Regions from separate parts of the Homo sapiens genome. Here region 1 is linked to region 2. The links come from fine-mapping of genetic effects on gene expression. A gene starts in region 2. The other region holds a variant in brackets. All regions are shown on one strand. Distances are from middle to middle.

What was found. PIP is the estimated chance that this variant, and not a neighbour inherited with it, causes the effect.
Region 1: its variant is the best candidate, but not a certain one, in a credible set for the expression of GLP2R in sigmoid colon (GTEx, PIP 0.78).

The regions. Positions count from the first base shown.
Region 1 is chr17:9,892,747-9,903,034 of GRCh38, forward strand. It overlaps RCVRN (recoverin), which reads right to left. Exons shown (of 3, transcript NM_002903.3): 2 at 8,243-8,354; 3 at 3,574-5,458. The coding sequence ends at 5,349. Among named protein-coding and RNA genes, the nearest start is that of RCVRN, 7.4 kb to the right of the region's middle. RefSeq lists an enhancer at 6,302-6,803. The variant C/G (reference allele first, on the strand shown) is at 5,667.
Region 2 is chr17:9,820,130-9,830,417 of GRCh38, forward strand. It overlaps GLP2R (glucagon like peptide 2 receptor), which reads left to right and starts at 5,795. Exons shown (of 13, transcript NM_004246.3): 1 at 5,795-6,123. The coding sequence starts at 5,935. GSG1L2 (GSG1 like 2) reads right to left here and starts at 1,950. Exons shown (of 5, transcript NM_001310219.2): 1 at 1,633-1,950. The coding sequence starts at 1,942.

The sequences.
Region 1 (10,288 bases), 73 kb after region 2:
CACGCCCAGCCCCCTGGGAAGCTTTTTTAAAAGACCAGTGACAGGGTCTGACCCCAGAGGTTCTGATTGAAATGGTCTTACTAGACCTGGGCATTGGGATTTTTATAAGTTCCTGAGTGATCTTTTTTAAATTGTGGCAAAATATATATAACATAAAATTAACCATTGTAGCCATCTTTTTTTCTTTTTGTTTTTTGAGACAGAGTCTTGCTCTGTCACCAGGCTGGAGTGCAGTGCTGTGATCTCGGCTCACCGCAACCTCCACCTCCCAGGTTCAGGCAATTCTTCTGCCTCTGCCTCCCGAGTAGCTGGGACTACAGGCGCCTGCCACCACTCCTGGCTAATTTTTGTATTTTTAGTAGAGATGGGGTTTCACCATATTGGTCAGGCTGGTCTCAAACTCCTGACCCCAGGTGATCCACGCGCCTTGGCCTCCCAAAGTGCTGGGATTACAGGCGTGAGCCACCGCGCCCGGCCAGCCATTATTAAGTGTATGGTTCAGTGGCATGAAGTACCTTCTTACTGTTGTGCAGCCGTCACCACCATCCATCTCCAGGACTCTTTCATCTTCCTGAACTGAAACTCTACATCCATTAAACAATAGCCTCCCATTCTTTCCTCCCCAAGCCCCTGACAACTTCTACTTCCTGTCTCTGTGAATTTGCTTATTCTGGATACATCAGCTATAAGTGGAACTGTATAGTATGTATCCTTTTGTGATCAGCTTATTTCACTCCCATAGTGCCCTCAAGGATCATCCACCTTGTAGTGTGTGTCAGAAATTCCTTTTTTAAAATGCTGAATAATATTCCATGCATACCACATTTTGTTTATCTGTTCATCCATTGATGGACACTTGGCTTGTTTCCATGTTTGGCTATTGTGAATAATGCTGCTATTGGTAGGGATGTATAAACATCTGGTTTCTGTTTTAAAAATTTGAGTATACCTACAAGTGGAACTGCTGAATCATATGGTGATTCTATATTTTCCCCAACAGCTGCGCCATTTTATATTCCCACCAGCAATGCATGAGGATTCCAAATGCTCCATGGCCTTTGCCAACATTTATTTTCTATTTTTTTATGATAACCATTCCTAATGGCTGTGAAATGGTATCTCATTGTGGTTTTGATTTGCGTTTCCGGAATGACTAATGATGTCAAGCATCTTTTTATGTGCCTGCTGATTAGTCCTTTGTGAGTCTTCTTTAGAAAAATATCTATTCAATTCTTGGCCCATTTTTCAATTGGATTGTTTGTTTTTTGTTGTTGAGTTGCAGGAATTCTTTATGCATTCTGAATATGGATACCTTATCTATTATTTGCAAATATTTTCTCTCATTCTGTAGATTGTCTTTTTGCCTCTTGATAGTGCCCTTTTATGTAGAAAAGTTTTAAATTTTGTTGAAGTCCAATGTGTCTATTTGTTTTTCTTTTGCTGCCCGTGCTTTGGCATCAACGCCACCTGTGTGACTTTAATATGGGACCAAGGTTGAGAACATTGGAACTGAGGCAGAGGGGAAGGAGGTGAACCCTCCTCTGGAAACTGACAATACCTTGCCGAAGTCCAAATAAACTGAGTCTTTCTCCCATGTAGCATTTAGAGCTCAAATTCTTCCACAAGCACAGACTCAACTGATTCTCACAACTCTTAAGTGACAGGCAATGTAGGTGTGGCTGGCCCAGTTTTATTTTTTAAGGAGTGGTCATCCAGCTGGAGCCTAAGAGCCTGAGACACAGACATTTTTGGGCTTGTCTGATGAGTTTATATAACCATTAAGGGGCAGAAATGGGAGTGAAGTGGACAGCAGTACGGCGGCTGACCCCACTTGGCTCCATGGTCAGAGTCTGAGCCTGGTGAGAGAAGAGAAGCTTCAGACAAAAGCTAGGAGAGCTGTTTCCAGGAGGCAATGACAAAAGCTGTTTCCGTGACACATGCTACTTCCCATGGGGCTGTTCTGATAGACTCTAACCTAGAAGGCTCCTCAGCAGATCAGCACACAGCTTGGGTACATTAGGAGCACTGTGGCCTCGCCTGTGATTAGGAACGTAGTACTTGAGGGCAGCAATGGCACCTGGCACTAAGGGATCTATGGGTGAATCTGTGTGGGACACCTCCTGGAGATGCTAAAAATGCCCAAGAGACACTGCACAAGGGGCTGGGATCTTATGTGGGCAGGTGGCAACAGAAGCTCAGGCAGTTTGGATTATTGCTCTTAATGAGACCCATTTCTGCCCTTGAATTTACATGTACTTGAGGAGTCAGGGATCTAGAGACAGGAAATGACTTCCCCAAGGTCTCTATAGTAGACATCTATTTTTAGAATCTGCCCTTCTTATAGTACCCCAATTTTCCTCTTGGAAAAACCACTCATCTCCTACTGTCAGTCCACGGAACTTGAGTTGTCCTGACTCTATCCTCAGTTCAAGGATGGGCATAAAAATCTGCTGGCCAAGCAGAGCAGTACATCCTTCTGGCATCAGATATTGAGTCAGGCATGGGCATATAACTAACCAGAGACAGTGAGATGCAATCCTGACACTTTGGCTGGGACTCTTAAGAGAAAGCATTTTCTCTTTTCTGCTGAAATTGGAACCATGAAGAAGGCAGCCTGGATCTGCTGGTGACCGTCCTGCCAGCATGGGAAGAACCTGTCTGAGAATGGTGGTGACAGCAGAAACCAGAACCAGGAGAGGGAGAAATGAACTCTGGGACATTGTTGGAGCCCCTGGATTAAGCCATACCTGAAGCTAGCCCTACTCCTAGAATTTCAGCTATAAGAGCCAAGCAATTTCTATTTGTGCCACAATAATTTGTGCCAGGTCATCTACCTTTTGCATCTGGAAGAGTCTTGATGACATAGCTCATCACTATCTCCACCTCCTCTTCCCTGTGGCCAAGTTGAACTTCATGCTTTATTTTCCACAAAGTGTCATACAGCTGTAGAGAATCTCAGCCCAAGTGGTCCTTCCACCCTAAGCTAAAAAAAGAGGCACTAATTAGGTTTTCACTCTTTGGCTCTCCCATTGAACCACAAACCAGCAAGGACCTAATTATGCAGTGTCTGTCCTTTTAGACTCAAGTGACAATGATAGACTGACCTCAGAGAGAAGTGAAAAGCCCCCAGCCTCATCCTCGAAGCAACCAGATTCATTCATGGAGTGTGGTGGAAAGAGCATTGAGCCCTTTGGTTATATTCCTAGAACACTCTGGACTGGACCCACAGAGTCTTTTATCTCCCACTGAACTGGCTTCTATATAGCCCACTATGTCTACATGGGAGAATGCCTTGGGTAGATGATTCTAGTAATAATCCTTCTCCTCCCAGAACCTCTGGACTCATGCCTTGTAGCCTCCTTCCCCTTTCCATCTCTGACATTGTGCAATCCTAGAGTTCTCTATCCTGCTGTGTCCAGGTCAAAACTATTGGAGAAATCTGGTGTAATCAAAGGGACTCCAGTTTAAGTACCAACTCCTACTCACACTTCCTGCCCTCAGTATCCTCATCTGTATTGTGCAGATAATAACATCTCCATCAATGAAATAATGATGGCAGAGTCTAGCATGGTGCACGGTTCATAAGTGTTTATTCTCACGTTTGCTCTCCACACAGAGGAGTGCTCTTTGGCAGTGGTGATTGTGTCATCTCTGTGGCTAAAGTGGGGTCTGGAGGCATCACCACAATACCAGCAACTAGAGACTCCTCAGCCTCAAGAGGTTGCAGACAGGTCAGTCAAGAATCCAGGGTATCCATGCATTTTTCTGACCTCATCTTGGAACTTGAGGCTGGAGAATAAATGGGCCTTCAAAGCAACAAATCCAGGGATCTTGGAGAATGCACTGATGGAGTTCCTGGGTATCCCAGGCCCTGGAGCTTTGAGGAGGCAGTTGGGGGCCGGTGGGTAGCCCTTGCCTGACCTCTGCTCATCAGCTGGCTGCCCTTGGGCAAGCTGCTTCCTGTCATTGGGACTCCTTTTCCTTGTCTCTAAAACAAGGGGCTTTAGGGCCATCTATGGCTCTGCCTTCACCTCATACTATATTGAAGCTGAATTCATCATTGTTCCCTGAAACCCCAAAGACTCTCTGTATTTCTCATCTCCATAGATGGCATTGCTATTCACCCACTGCCCAAGCTACAGGCCTGGCTGCCATTCCTGCCCTCTCTCCTCCTGCCCCCTCAGCCAGCCAGGTGGATGCTACCTCCTAAATGTGTCCTCACTGGATCTGGTCCTCTCCATCCCATTGCCTTTCCCCTGGCCCAGGCCATCTGAGTGGCTGCAAAAGCTTATTCATCGGGCTCCCTGACTCCAGGGAGCCCCCAGTTGCTCCTCTCTGACTTATTTTAGCCTGCTGGGGACTTCTCTTACAAACATAAACCCCTCCTACTTCCAACTCCACAGTGGCACCGCTGTCCCCATGGTGAGCCCCCAAGTGCTTACCACAGGCTGCAGGGAGGGCTTTGCGTGGTCCAGCCCCCGCCTACCTTTTAGATTCAGCTCACACTTTGCTCTCCCTCCTCCTTCTACCCTCCAGCCACCCCGACCTTCTCCTGGAACTCGAGATGGTCATTCATGCCTCAGCGGCTCTGTGTTGGCCGCCTTCTGTTTGAGACTTCCCCACCCCGACCCCGTCCCCCGCCTCGTGTGCAGTGGTTCTGAATTTAAATCTCCCTTCGTCAGGGATGTGGTCCCTGATCCCCCCTGACAAGTCAGCCCCTTCCACTGTGTCCTCCCCTGGTGCTCTGCACGTTTCCATGGTAACCTGGGCCACTGGTCATGGCTCCTTCCAGGTTCATTGTCCCCTCTGGACCATGAGCTCCATGACAGCAGGACCGCATTAGACTCATTCCGCACCAAAGCAGCCCAGCCTAGGGCTGCCATCGCAACACAGCCTTGTCTTTGAGGTGTGACTGATAGAAATCATTTCCTTTTCCAGTTGAAGGATGACCAGCAGCCACGTGCCCAGCTCAGCTTGCGTTTATTGGAAACTGCTTACCCAGCACTCCACAAAGGAGCTTACAGCGGGGTGACACTTAGGACTCCTATGGCCTAATCCTGGGATTAGCACAGGGCCATGGGCTGGTGGACAGAGGGAGGGGTGGGACCGGGCATGATGGGAGGGAATGCTGAAGACCCAGGAAGAAGGAACCAGTGGGTCACTACAGATGCTTCAGTTTGGCAGGGAGCTGTGCTGTGGGCTTGTGTGCAGGCCTTTCTCTTGGCCCTGGGGTGGATGTGTGTGTGTGTGTGTGCGCGCGCGTGTGTGTGCATGTGTGTGTGTGTGCACAGGCGCTCACGGGTGTCATGTGAGTGGTAGGTGGAGGGAGGACAGCTGAACAGTTGGCATCAGGCGTTCTTCATCTTTTCCTTCACTTTTTGAGGCTCAAACTGGATCAGTCGCAGAATTTCCTTATTGGCCAGTGTCCCCTCAATGAATTCTTTCTCTGTAAGTTTATCTGTGCATTGGGAAAAAATATATACGTACATAAAACAGTCAGGATTGATAGCCAAGTGAGCTGCGATGAGGCTGACATCTAGCCAGTATCCCCAGTGTGAATGTATCTATTATAAGAATATTGAATACTCAGTGGCCCTGAGTATTCAATATTCCCCCACCCCAGTCCAGATACCCACCTCCTTTCCCATGACCCTTGGAGCTCCCTG[C/G]AGACCAGCAAAGAGCGGTGAATGACTGGCACTGGGGGGGCCCCCAAGATGCCAGTCTTGTGCTATGTGTCTCTTCCGATTGGCCGGTGCCCCTGCCTTGCTGGTTATTAAATACTTCAATAATTAATAACTATTAATTGTTATTCTATTTTCTATAGTAGCTCAAGTTTCAAGGATCAAGTTCAGGAGGAGCTTCTGGGGGTCTGAGCATAGCAAAACAATCTGGATGTCAGGCCCAGAGTCTCAGCTGAGAAGCAGGGAACAACATCCCTCCAGAAATAGGAGTGAGAAGTGAAGGGCCCAATGAGATCATGCCAGGGGGAGTGTGGCTTGCAGAGAGGTCTCTTTGGCACCTGCAGCACACAGGCAGCCCCATGATTCCTGGCTGACAACTCCGCCATGATCCCTTCCTATGCATCCATCCCTGCGTCCCCCAGTCTCATCTGCCTCCTTATTTGGGATCAGGACTGAGAGACAGCCTTGTTGCGCCCACACCTGGTTTTCCGGTGTTTTTAATCAGGTGGCTAACTGTATTCAGATCAGTCCAGTTAAATGCATGGTCCTGAGCCCAGATGCCACTGTGCTTGGAGCCAAGGCCACCACAGGGAGCGGAGGCGGGGTGTACAATAGAAGAGAGTGAGATGAAGTCCCTCCCTGGGAAACTGTTGACCTGGCGGGGAAGGCAGTCACACGCAGAAATACCTCTAGCATGAGACAGATGCTCCTTTCTGTTGTATGTTCACAGTGCCTAGCACAGAGTCGGTGCTCAACAAAGCTTTGCTGAACTGAATGTGATTTCTGACTTATGCTCTGGGCCTTTTGGATACCTTTAATCCCTTCTGGGTTAGGATCCAGGATGGCTTCCTCCGCAAGTCTGGGTGGTAAAATTTGGGTTTTAACATCCCAGCCACCCCACAGAGAGCTCACAGAGAGCTTGAAACTCCCACCATCAAAGCCTGACTCTGCCCTGAGGCATTGTCTCCAGATGGGCCGCGTGGAAACACGTACAACACATCACGAACAGGAGTAACACGTCGACCTCGGGGCTTCTGACGTCATCCCCTCCCGGGATGTTCACCAGGGAGGTTTTCAGATGAGCAAAAAGCAGAACACAGGGCTCGACACATGAACGGACCCAGAGGGAGGTCGCGAAGCCAGTTAAGGAGCCAGTGGGGCAAAGTGCCAAAAGAAGGCATCTTGGTAGCCAGTGTCTGTGCAAGGAGGAGAGAGTGCTCAAAGGTGAGGGGCCAATCCGGGCCGATGAGGGAAAGGTGGGTAAAGTACCAAGGCGCGAATTTAAGGAGGCGCTCACTTTCAGGTCCTGTGAGTGCATTGTTGACCCCTGAGAACGAGCGCCTCCTTAAATTCTGTGTCCTATGTTCCTCCTACCCCAATGACCTTCATGCTTCTCTTATTTCATCATTTGTTGGCAGATTAGGAGGAGCAGGGTCATCTCTCTCTGCCCTTATTTAGCATCCTGCTCAGCTTTTTCTTCTTGAACCTTGGCAGAAGACTGCCTCCAGAGGTCACCAAAGGGGTTAATACAGGACCCTTGGATGTGTTTGGGCCATGCTGTGTTTTATCAGTTGAGACACACTGGATTTTTAAAGTCTTCATGGCTGGCTTCTCTTAAAAAAAAATCAGATGATGTCTCAACCACGGGTTCCATAGCCCCACATGGAATATGCTGGAAGCCATCAGACCAGAGGTGCACCCTCTGCTGTTTGCCAATCCCCACTGCTTGTAGATGACTGTCCACATAACTCGTTTTCATCATTCCTGCCCCTCCAGCCATATGTGTTTGCAGCCCCAGCCTAATACCAGCTCCTTTACCGCATCCTTGTGCTGGCCGTAAGCATCACAGACACACAGCCCCAGCAGCCGAGTGCTGGAGTCCATCACTGCCTACAGTGCAGGATCACACTTCCTGGGGGCTGCTTCCAGCCACTGACTGACAGGGCAGGGGCACCAAGACTGACAGGGGCACTGAGGACACCCCATCGACTCTGTCAACACTTCCTCAGACTGCACTGCAGTCTCGGGCATTACTTACCTAATCTTCCTTTCTTTCCTAACCTTCCTTTCTTTCCTAACCTTCCTTTCTTTCCCTCTCTCCCTGCCAGGGGTCAGATCTGCTTGGCAGTCTGATAGCTTTCCCAGCCTCCTCTCGATCCCAGCCTGTTTTCCTTCTTCAGCCTTTCCTCCCATAAATCTCTTGCAATCTCATTTAAATCTAATCCTATCTTGGTGGTGTTTCTCAGAGGACCCAAACCAACTTCCCAAAGTAAAACCATAGAAATACAGATCCCACTGACTTGGGACTCGATATTAATTCAAAGCTAGGGTGAGCTGAAGTTTGCTCTTGTTCTAATTGCACAGAAAACAGTTTTGGCTCCTGCTCACCCTTAAGGCCATTCCCCTGTCCAACCCTTCAAACAGCTCTGAAAATGCACAATGGAATGAGGTGTCCCCCATCCTGCCTGGACACTGTGACTCAGAAGAATAAATCTTGTTGGGATTTCCAGGAAACAGCCCATGGTTGAAAAATCAAAGGCAATGAAGGAAAAGGAATTCACCATCATCATTCTTTCCAAAGTACTTCCAGATCTTCTCGGCTCGCTTTTCCGGCGTGTTTTCATCGTCTGGAAGGAGCTTCACGTCCTCGGGAGTGATCATTTTGAAAATAGCCTGTACCAAACAGAAAGAAAGAACTCGTTAGGAGGAACTTTAAGGGGCTGGCAACCCTGGAAAATCCACATCTTACACTGTACACAAAAATCTACTCAAAATGGATTAAAGACTTAAACATAAGACCTCAGACCGTCAAACTGCTGGAGGAAAACGTAGGGGAAAAGCTTCTTGGCACTGGTCTTGACGATAATTTTTTGGATATGACACCAAAAGCAAAGGCAACATAAACCAGAATAAACAAGCAGGATAGCATCACACTAAAGAGCTTCTCCATGTCAGAGGAAACAATGAACAAAATCAAAATGTAACTTATGGAATGGGAGAAAACATTCGCAAACCATTTGCGTTCTGCCTCCCCGGAGACACCTGTGAGCAGGTCAGGCAGGGGCAATAATGGCTGTGAAATTATCCTGGAGGGAAGGTCGACAGCTTTGAGAAGTTTCCCTTCAGCCCCCTGGTGCTGGATAAAGGAGTAAAGAGGCCAAAGCCACAGCCCAGGGCAGCAGCGTCGCTGGCAGCACTCAAAGCCCTGAGCTGGACGCCAGTGTAGGTGGCTCCTACACTCCTATCCATCTGTGCAGGGCCTTGGGCACCATGTGCAGGTGTGCCAGCTAGAAGCTGGCAGTGAGTGCCTGCCCACCCCACTTCCAACACGGAGGGACAGACCTCCAGAGCCTCAGGAAAGACTGCAAAAATAATCAAATCCTCACCCTGGGCCCAGGAAGGTTATATGGTTTTCCCACAGCAACACTGCTAGTTGGAGTCAGAGCTGGGACTAGAACCCTTCACTTTTAACTCCCTCAGTCAGTGCTCTGCCCATGAACTTGTAATCTGGTGAATAGCAGAGCCTTCTGCCACCTTGCACAGCCCCAGCCATTGATGGAGTCTCCCTCCCTCCCTTTCCTTTCTTCTTTCTTCCTTTCTCTCCTCCTTTCCTTCTCCTCCCTCCCTTCCTTCTCTCCTTCCCCTTGCTTCCCCCTCTTTCCTTCCTGACTCCTACCTTCCCTCTCTCCCTCCCTCATTTCCCCCTCCTCCCTTTCCTCCTCCTTTTATTCAATGAGTATCAATTTGTAGGCTTCTGCTGGGCCCTGCATTGTTTATGCCACTCTGAAGACTTAGTCCCTGTCCCAGGCCACCCAGAGACCCCACAGCCAATCCGAGGGAGCTTTCTCTGCAGGCTGTGCCAAGATAACAATGAGAGAGACACATGCCTGCCAGAATGGGAGGCCCGAGCTGAGCATTGAGGATAAGCCCATGGACCACAAGCTGCATGCTCTGCTGTTTTATTTATGATTTCTCCTAATAACTGTGGAAGATTTTTGTGCATTTGTCATCATGCAAATGAAAGCATGATTGCCAATGCACACAAAGTTATTAACATCTAAACAATAGTCTCTACTAACAGGAATGGAATTAGAAGAATAAGGTAAGTGGCAGGGGCAGGGGGACTGAAAAAGAATAAATTAAAAAAAAATCAAATGAAGGAAATTAGAACTGGTATAATAGGAAAGAAATGGAAACAACCTAATGTCCAAAAACATAGGAATGTTCAATAATTTCCACATTTCCATAAGCCAGAATTCCAAGCAGCTATTAAAAGAGTTTTGGAAGAGGTTGGGTGCGGAAGCTCACGCCTGTAATCCCAGCACTTTGGGAGGCCGAGGCGGGCAGATCACCTGAGGTCAGGAGTTCGAGACCAGCCTGGCCAACATGGTGAAACCCCGTCTCTACTAAAATACAAAAATTAGCTGGGCAGGTGCCTGTAATCCCAGCTACTCGTGAGGCTGAGGCAGGAGAATTGCTCAAACCCAGGAGGGGGAGGTTGCAGTGAGCTGAGATCACGCCACTGCACTCCAGCCTGGGCGACAAGAGCAAAACTCTGTCTGAAGAAAAAAAAAAAGTGTTTTGGAAGAATATGTAATGATATGGAA
Region 2 (10,288 bases):
CAGACCTCTAGACTCCACCCCGGCTCTCTTAAATTAGAACCTCCAGGACTGGGCACCTGGATATTTCTTTTACAAGTTCCTTGGGTGATACATTTGATAACTGGTGTGACGCCTATATAGAGCTGTGGAAACAGAAGTACTATAGGCAGTCCTCATATGAGAACTTGGAAAGGAGATGGAATTTCCCAAGTGATTTGCCTATAAGTATGGTGAATACAGTTTCCAAACCAAAATTCTGGAAGTGTTTTGGAAATCCTCCAGGATGCAGGGTCCTGAGACTTTTGCCTCTGTCCATGAAGGTGGGGAAGAGACTCATAGGAAGATAGCACTCCCTGAGAAGCGAGGAACTGTGGAGGTCCTAAATAGCCTTAGCTCCAGGCACTATTGCAGTGTCTGTACCACACTTAAAGCACAAGACACAGGCACTGGCCTGGATACATGGGAGGTTCAGTCAGGCTGGGTACTGCCCCACATTGGCCACCACTGGGAGAGAGGGTGGAAGGGAGGGACATACAGCACCTCTGAGTGTTCCTTTTTTTTTTTTTTTAATTTGAGACAGGTCTCGCTCTATCATTCAGGCTGGAGGGCAGTCACACGATGATGACTCACTGCAGCCTCAACCTCCCAGGCTCAAGTGATCCTCCCAGAGTAGCTGGGACCACAGGCACACCCCACCATGTCCAGCTAATTTTTTAAAAAAACCTTTTGTAAAGAGAGGTCTCACTATGTTGCCTATGTTGCCAGGCTGGTCTGTAACTCCTGGTCTCAAGTGATTCTCCTGTCTCAGCTTCCCAAAGTGCTAGGATTATAGGAATGAGCCACCAGGCTGGGCCTCAGGGGCTTCATTCTTGTTGCCTTTTACTTAGGCCTCAGGAACAAAAATCAAATGCTATGAGAATGGAAAAAGAAAAGGCAATTAGAAACTCCAGAAAAAGTTAAAAAACTGTGCAAGAAATTGACTGTAATAAGCTGAGGTCAGGAAAGAAATGGGGATGGGAGGATTCCTCCTTTTTCTGCCTTGGAGGTTTTGCGTCCCAAGCAGAAAGGGAAGAGTACTCTGTCCCTGAACGCGGGCTTACAGCCAGGCTGCCAAATATGGAAGAGTCAAATTCCTCCCTCCTCAATTCTTTGAGAGGTAAAAACACTTCTGTTTTTAAAGATTCACTCCAAGATCATTCCAAGTGCAGGATAAATAACAGGGATGCACCTTCGAGTTGGGTCGGGACCACCTTTCATTCCCAAAGGATTTTAAATACCAGGGATTCAGTGACAAGAACAAACGAGAAACTAATTTTAATAAACACTTGCAATGTGTCAGGCCCTGTTGCAAGCTCTGTATGTGAATCTGGTCATTTCATCTTTACAATCACTCTTGGAGGTAAGTACTGCTATCATTCCCATTTTACAGATGAGAAAACTGAGGCTCAGAGAGGTGAAGGGACTTATTCAAGGATACCTAGACAATCAGTGGAGATGAAGGATTCAAACCCAGACAGCCTGGCTCCAGAGCCCCTGCATCATCCCGCACCTGTTACCCCCAGAATCTGCAGGATTCAAACCCAGACAGCCTGGCTCCAGAGCCCCTGCCCCATCCCGCACCTGTCTTCCCCAGAATCTACAGGCTTTGCTCACCTTCACCGTTGAGGCTCTCCTCGCAGGACTGCCAGAGCCCCACATGGAACCCCCGCTGAATGAACTTGTCATCACCCAGCTCCCAAATGTACAGGACAGCCTGGCTATTGTTGTCCATCCTGCCATTGCTGCTGTTGTCCCGTTTGAAGTGAATGCAGTGCTGCCCTCCCGGCTGGTCCTGGCACAGTGGCTTCACCACCCGTCGGGTCCCCTCACACCAGTGGCTGCTGACCACGGCGGTGAGGGAGAAGGTGAGGGCGAGGCAGACAGGGAGGAGGAGCAGCGCCTGCTGCTGCTTGGCCCTGTCCATGGCTGAGTGAGGTGCGTGGGGCAGGATGAGCTGTGGGGCCCCCTCCTCCTGCCTCGTCACGGTACCTGCCCCTCAGCTCTGCCATCTGGCATCCTCACACAGCCTCCTCTCACGTCCCCCTGGAGAATTGCACGTGCTGCCACACCAGATCCAGAGGCACAGAGCCGGGGCACGTTCCTGTCAAGGGTGCTGGCCCTGCCATTCTCCCCAGGAGGTAGGTGTGCGGGAGGGCATTGTTTTTTTTTGTTTGTTTGTTTGTTTGTTTTTTTGAGATGGAGTTTCTCTCTTGTTGCCCAAGCTGGAGTGCAGTGGCATGATCTTGGCTCACCTCAACCTCTGCCTCCCGGGTTCAAGTGATTCCACTGCCTCAGCCTCCTAAGTAGCTGGGACCACAGGTGCATGCCACCATGCTGGGATAATTTTTTGTATTTTAGTGGAGAGGAGGTTTCACCATGATGCCCAGGATGGTCTCGATCTCCTGACCTCGTGATCCACCTGTCTCGGCCTCCCAAAGTGCTGGGATTACAGGCGTGAGCCACCGTGCCCAGCCAGAGGGCATTGTTTTTAAATTGTGGTAAAACACACATAACATGAAATTAACCATCTCAACCTTTTTTTTTTCTTTTTTTGAGACAGAGTTTCACTCTGTCACCCAGGCTGGAGTGCAGTGGCACCGTCTTGGCTCACTGCAACCTCCACTTCCTGGGTTCAAGTGATTCTCCTACCTCAGCCTCCCAAGTAGTTGGGATTACAGGTGCCCGCCACCATGCCCGGCTAAGTTTTGTATTTTTAGTAGAGACGGGGTTTCACCATGTTGGCCAGGCTGTTCTCAAACTCCTGACCCCAGGTGATCCACCTGCCTCGGCCTCCCAGAGTGTGGGATTACCGGCATGAGCCACCACACTTGGCCATCTCAATCTTTTTTTTTTTTTTTTTTTTTTTTGATATGGAGTCTCACTCTGTCGCCCAGGCTGGGGTGCAGTGGCATAATCTTGGCTCACTGCAACCTCCGCCTCCCGGGTTCAAGTGATTCTCCTGCCTCACCCTCTAGAGTAGCTGGGATTACAAGCGCACGTCACCACACCCGGCTAATTTTTGTATTTTTAGTAGAGGCGGGGTTTCACCATGTTGGTCAGGCTGGCATCTCAACCATTTTTAAGTGCAAAGTTTAGTGGCATTAACTACGCTCACAGTGTTGTGCAACCATCACCACCATCCACCTCCAGAACTCTTTTCATCTTTCATCATCTGTACCCATCACACAACTCCCATTGCCCTTCCTCCTCTGCTTGGCAGCCACCATTCTTCTCTCTGTTTCTATGAATTTGACTACTCTAGGTGCCTCCTGTAAGTGCACTCATACAGTATCCGTCCCTTTGTGACTTGCTTACTTCGCTTAGCATAATGTCCTCAAGCTTCATGCATGTTGTAGCATGTGTCAGAATGTCCTTCCTTTTTCAAGGCAGAATAATATTCCCTGTGTTTGTTGGATAGCATTTTGTTCATCTATTCAGACACCTGGGTTTTTTCCACCTTTTGGCTGTTGTGGAGGGTGCTGGTTTTGATGGAAGACCAGGGGCTGTTTGGGTGGCTGTCTTGGTGAGACAGCCTCACCATTGCCTTTTGCATGGAGCAGGTCCTTAGTGTTGGATTCCGGAATCAGGGAATCCCAAGGACTTCATAGGCCTGTTTCTTGTCCAGCTCTATGTAGAGAAGGACTACGGAAAACAGATGCTTGTTCCAGGGATGCTGGGTGATGCGAGGTACAGGCAGGCTACCTCAGGGCCAAGGTGCTGTGCAGAATGGGGAGGGCAGCATGTATCCCACTTGGCTGCAGGGTTCTGAGGCCAGGGGCCCGCAGATGCTAGAAGACAGAACCCTGGGCACCATCGCTCAGGCCCTCACTGAACGGGGCACTGGCAGGAGCAGTGATGCTGAAGATTTTTAAGGAACTCCTCGGGCAGAGGACACTGATGAAGGTGTGAGGGCAGAAGATTCTGCAGAGCATCCTGAAAACACACAGGCTCTTGATGATGTGTTAGACACCTCCTGAATACCCCCCAGACAGAATCTGGAATCTATGTGCCTGGGCTAGACAGTGATACTGGGTTAATATCACTCCATCTATACTTTGCCGCTGGCCGAGTCTGGGCACCTGTGTCCTGTGCTCTCACTGGCCTGGTGGGGTGTCCAGTCTCAAGGGAAGAGGCCTTACTAAGTTCCATCGCTAGAGGGCAACCAGCCAATGGGTGGGGAAGTCGTGTGTGGCCCCCAACTTTCATCCCTTCAGAAATAAAGGATGTTTTTGAGAAAAAGTTGCAAGAGATGAGATGGAATATTCTTGCAAAGCAGGTATTTTCTTTAAAGACAGACCATTTTCCAGCATGCAACTTGGAAGATGATCTTTAATGAGCACTCACAGAACGGAGTTGCAGCCACATTCAATGACCAAAGTCCATCCCTTGGGTACTTTCTCCCTCTGGGTCACTCCATCCTGCTCTCTGCCATCCCAGAGAGATGACCACGTCAATTCCAGAGGTGACACCACTCTGAGTCCATTTCTAGGGTCTTTGTTCTAGTTGAGCTTTTCATTGTTAAGGTCTAAAATCTTGTCACATGGAGTTTTTAAGATTTTTAGGGATGTCTATTAAGAAAAGCATGGCTGCTTTTCCCAACTGTTCAGAATTCATTCAGTTGAAAAGTTACCCAGGATGAGTTCCTATGTTTGACTTGAAGAGGGAAGGAAAAAATAACACAAAAACAAAACCAAAAACGAAGTGAAAACATGTTCTTCTTGCCTCTTGCTGACTCACTGTTCCAACCAATCAAGACATCTTCCACCTGGGCCTCCAATTTGGGAGGCTGGGAGACATTGCAGGGACGCTGGGAGCTGGCCTGGGAGAGGTGGAGTAAGAAGTTCCAAGCAGAGCCTTTGGGAGGCATGGCGATGAGCCTGCTAAGAACTCACCGGAGAGGGCAGGGGCAGGACAGGGCACCCTCCCAAGTACCTGTGCTCAAGCAACTCTGGTCAGAAGACCTGCCTATCCGGTTCTGCTGTTTACTTGCTGTGTGGCTTTGGGCAAGCCATCCAACCTCTCTGAGCCTCAATGTTTCTCAGCTGTCAAATGGAGAATTCATCGTATCCTCATGGGGTTATTGTCAGGATGTGCGAAATAGGATGGTGGGTTAAAAGACGTTGTCAATGTGAGTTGTGGGGACAGCCTACTCCTGTGCTGGTTAGTAAGTGATGTATCATCAATTCCATAAAAGGGTCTGTCAGGTGGGCTGAGCCACATGTGCTTAGAACAAGTGGGCATTCAAGATGAGTGAATGTTGCACTTTTCAACACACTGTTTTGCTATTGTGTAGGCATAACCTACGCCGCTGATTGGGTTTTTGCTTCATGGCCTGGGCTGGGAGCTGTTCTCTCCTGAGCTGAGCAACCACCTCTCCTGCAGTCTCTGCATAAACAGGACCCAGAGGAGATTTTGCCTTTGTGGTTAGCCTCAGCCCAGCCTGGACAAGCTTAATGCCTTAGAAAGAAATACCCTGCCTCAAAAAGACACCTGCCTCTAAACTGGCTCGAGCCCCATCGCCTTCTGCCAGCCATTCCTCTGTAGCTCGAACCCCAGCCTGTCTCAGCCAGCTTCGTGCATTGAGCAGAACCTTCAGGGTGGAGCCCGCTGACCGCCTTGTTCTTTCTCCTCAGCCTGTCAAGGAAGTCCCAGAAAGCACAGCTGACTTAGGGAAGGTCTGGGAAAAATCTCCCTGCTTTTGGGGGGGCAGGGGCGGGGGATGAGCCAGGGCCGAGAAGGAACTCTGAAGACTCCGTAGATTGCTCTAGACCGCCTCAGACACTCTCGGCGCAGCGTGGAGAGGATTTGTGCAAACATTTCCTCTGTGGACCAAGAGGAATGCAAGAGGAGGCTGCCTGCGGTGCATCTTGGACGGCTAGAGAGATGTACCCCTACTTGTGAAGGTGCACGAGGAAGATGAAGCTGGGATCGAGCAGGGCAGGGCCTGGGAGAGGAAGCGCGGGACTCCTGCCTGGCGTCCACGAGCTGCCCATGGGCATCCCTGCCCCCTGGGGGACCAGTCCTCTCTCCTTCCACAGGAAGTGCTCTCTCTGGGCCCCTGGGAGGCCCTTCCTCACTCTGGTCCTGCTGGTTTCCATCAAGCAAGTAAGAGCAGTTCATTATTATTATTATTATCAGTTGTATTTCCTGATTTTTTTTTAAAGAAGCAATTTAGGCCTCATGTAAGCAATTTGGAAAAGAGAAAACAGTATTAAGAAAATAATGAGCCGCCATAATCCTAGCATTCAAAGGTAATCACTGTTCATATTTTGGCATATTGTCCTCAAACCTTTTCTCTATGCATTTGTTTTTTTTTACAACAGCTGATATTAGGAAGCATAAAACATGTTGTGTCCTGGTCCCCCCAACCAGCCCCGCATCATATTATAAGCATTTCCCCACGTCAATGTGAGTTCTGCAAATAGCATTTACAATTGCTGCACATATCCTTCTGTTTGTCTTCAGTATTCTCCCAGCTTTGAGTATTTAGGTTGAGCAAATCCATTTTTCTTTTTCCTTTCCTTTCCTTTCCCTTCTGTTTCCTTTTTCCTTTCATTACAAAAATGTTGAACGCTAATTGTTTTTTTAAAATACAATTCAAAGAAGTGAAATGCAAACTACAAATCACTCTACTTCCAACAGCTGCAGATCATCCTCATTCACATTTGGGGGCTTATACTTCCAGACATTTTTCTACCATTGTTTGCATACAGTTTTTTGTTTGTTTGTTTGTTTGTTTTTTGAGATGGGGTCTCGCTCTGTCGCCCAGGCTGAAGTGCAGTGGTGAGATCTTGGCTCACTGCAACCTCTGCCTCCCGGGTTCAAGTGATTTTCCTGCCTCAGCCTCCTGAGTAGCTGGGATTACAGGTACGTGCCACCACCCGGCTAATTTTTGTATTTTAGTAGAGATGGGGTTTCACCATGTTGGCCAGGCTGGTCTTGAACTCCTGACCTCAAGTGATCTACCCGCCTCGGCCTCCCAAAGTGCTGAGATTATAGGCATGAGCCACTGTACCAGGCCTACATACAGTTTTTTTTTTTAAACAAACACAGGCACATACTATAAATATTATTTTGTAATCTGCTTTCTTCATAACAAAATACACTAATAACACAGCTGACATCACTATGGAGCACTTGCTCTGCACTGGGTTGAGTGCCAGGTGCCCCCGTTCCTCATATTTTCTCCTTCTGTGTTCTCAGCAACCCTATAGACTGAGGTTCTCTTGTTAATCCCCTTTTACAGATGAGTAAACTGAGTCTCGGAGAAGTTGAGCAACATTCGTCCATGTTAGTAAATGTAGATCCATGGTATAATATTTAAGGGCTTTAAGGGTTTATTGTAATGTCTTTAACTATCCTCTATCGTTGGGCATGCTGGTAGCTTGCTTTATTCTATCCAAGAAGATTAGACCTTCGTCCTCTTTCCAAGTTTCCATTTGGATACTGGGCTATGGGCAGTATAAAAGGATGATGGGAAGGAACCCCAGTTCCACTTGTCTGAATAACGAAAGTAGCTTAAGGAATGGCTCAGACTGGGCACGGTAGCTCACGCCTGTAACCCCAACACTTTGGGAGGCTGAGGTGGGCAGATCACAAGGTCAGGAGTTCAAGTCCGGCCTGGCCAACGTGGTGAAACCCCGTCTGTACTAAAAAATACAAAAATTATCTGGGCATGGTGGTGTGTGCCTGTAATGCCAGTTGCTCAGGAGGCTGAGGCAGGAGAATTGCTTGAACCTGGAGGTGGAGGTTGCAGTGAGCCAAGATCACGCCATTGCACTCCAGTCTGGGCAGTAGAGTGAGGATCTGTCTCAAAAAAAAAAAAAAAAAAAAGGAATGGCTGTCTTCCTCCTTCGTTCCATGGGCAGGGTGAGTCCCTGTTCATGGTCTTGGAATTCTAAACCCCTCCAATCCCCATGTAGGGCAGGCTGTGGTACCAGGTCTCATGAGGGTTCACCTCAGGCTTTCTTTGTTGCAAGCCTGGGGCTAGACAGGCAGATAACCCCTGCCAGATTTCCTACATCCAGGTTCCCCTAGAGGCTGCCTTCAGGCCCTCATGGATTGTAAATGTGAGCCCAATCAATGGTTTCATGGAATTCTTGCCATCTTGGCAGCCTCTCCCCCAGTGACCAGAACATCCTTCAGGAAGGTGGCCCTGGCCTGCCTCTGGTCCCAGGACTTCAATGTGTTAGTGGTGGGACCATTTGGTGGGAGGGTTGGTTCAGAACATTCATCCTTGCTTCCATTCTCTGGATATCTCATATCAACACTGAGTGAGTGTATCCAGCTTATCATGTAGTTTTGTTCACAAATGTGGATTGCTGACCACATGCCAAGCCCTGAGACAGCGCTCAGGATATTATCATAAAATGCTTCCTCACACATCATCTTACTTAATCCTCAACACAAGCCTCTGAGAAGAGTGTTATTACTGAGCCCCTTTTACAGATGGGCAAATTAAGCTTCAGAGGAGTTAAATGGTTGCGTTCGATGCTGTAGCTCCTGAGCACTGTAGCCGTTGTGCCTACCCGGGGTGTTTGAAGCCCTGTGTTTTTTCTTCCGGAGTGCTCTTGGGAGTTGCTGATGTATGAATATTTATGTTACAACAGCGGAATCTGCAGAGCCTCGGGCCGGCTTACCAGGCTGAGAAAGCCACACCTTGACCCTTTCAGTCTGGTATTTTTATAATCAATAACATGTCTGCTGGCAGTGTCTGCTTCCACTCTCTGCCACCCAGTCTGCGTTTTCAGAGCATTTCTGGCTGTCTGTCCTCCGGGTGTGTCTGTAATTCTGATGGCCTTACTCTTGGTTCTCCATCTTAACCCCATATTCCTTTTCTAGATGTTTATATTACAAGGCTTTGTGAAGACTTTCATGATAAATTCTGCTCATAGCCTCTTTCCCTGCATGGAATATAAATGACTGTGGTGTGTGTTCTGGCAGGAAGTCTTCAAAAATTTCACTTAATGAGAAATTCTCAGGGATAGTTTAGTTTCTAAATTCAAGCAGGGAGGTAGTGTTATCCCCACACCACTCTCTCCCACACTCGTTTAAGTTATTTAGCAGTTGCTTTGGCATCAAAAACATAAACTATCTAAGGATTTTTGAGAAGTACATTGCGGCCCTTTTATACATGGATGGCAGGAGGGTAAAATGGTGCATATTTAAAATTTTTAATTTTTTTTTTTTTTTGGTGAGGGTAGACAGTTTGGCAGTCAAAAACCTTTAAAACTATGTGCATTCTGTGACCCAGAAATTCAAATTCAAAGAATTTCTAAGAAATAAAGATGTGCTCTCAAATGTTCAACTATGAGGATTTTAATCACAGCATCATTTACGTCAGCAAACATCTTAAAACAACATAGGCATTCAACGCTAGAGGATTTAAAAACTAAATTATATCACTTTTTTTCATAGAATGTTATGTAGCTGTTAAAAGGATGCTTTACTTCATTTATTATTTATTTCTTGAAATGGAAATATATTCACAATATTGGTCTTCTAATGAAACATAAAAGGCTTTGAAACAAGATTATTCCCTTTGAAGTCACAATAAAAAAGAAAAGAAAGACAATGAATGTGTCTTTCATTCACAGAGAGAAGAATCTGGAAGTAGATGGTAATTTCTGAGTAATGAGATGATAATTTCACCTTCTCCCCTTTTTGCATAGCTGTGATTTCTATTTCATCTACAGTGAAGTGTATTCCTTCTCTAACAAAGAAAAACAGATTTATTTAAAGAGAGTCAGTATAAGGATTTTTCTTTCCTTTTCCTTAATCCCTTCTCGGCCAAGTTCGTTGCTGATGCTGGTTGCCTATGCAAGGGAAAAGGAATCAAGGTCAAGCTGGACTTTTCCAGTTGGAAAAAAATTCACCCGTATATCTTCTTTCCTCATGACTTTGGGAATCTGGCTGTGATTGAACTTGGATGTACCCCTTGTGTTTTTTATGTCTTTAGGGCAAGGGAAGACAGTCTGAGTTTGTCCAGCTCTCCTAGACTGACAAAATTCAGTACTTTTTAGTTTTAGTTTGTTTTTCTGCTTTTGACTATGGCCATTGGCCATGGCAAAGAATGGAGGATAGGGGAACATTACTCCAGAGGCTGATTTTATTGTCTCTTCCTTAATCAGGTCCCGGAGAGGTCCCTGGGGTCATAAATAGTACTTTGTCCACCAATGGATCTTACACTGATGACTTGGAGGATTCTAGAAGCTTATTATTTGGTTAGCAACTCATCTGCTGAATTTGTAAAAATGATTTAGAGTCAGTT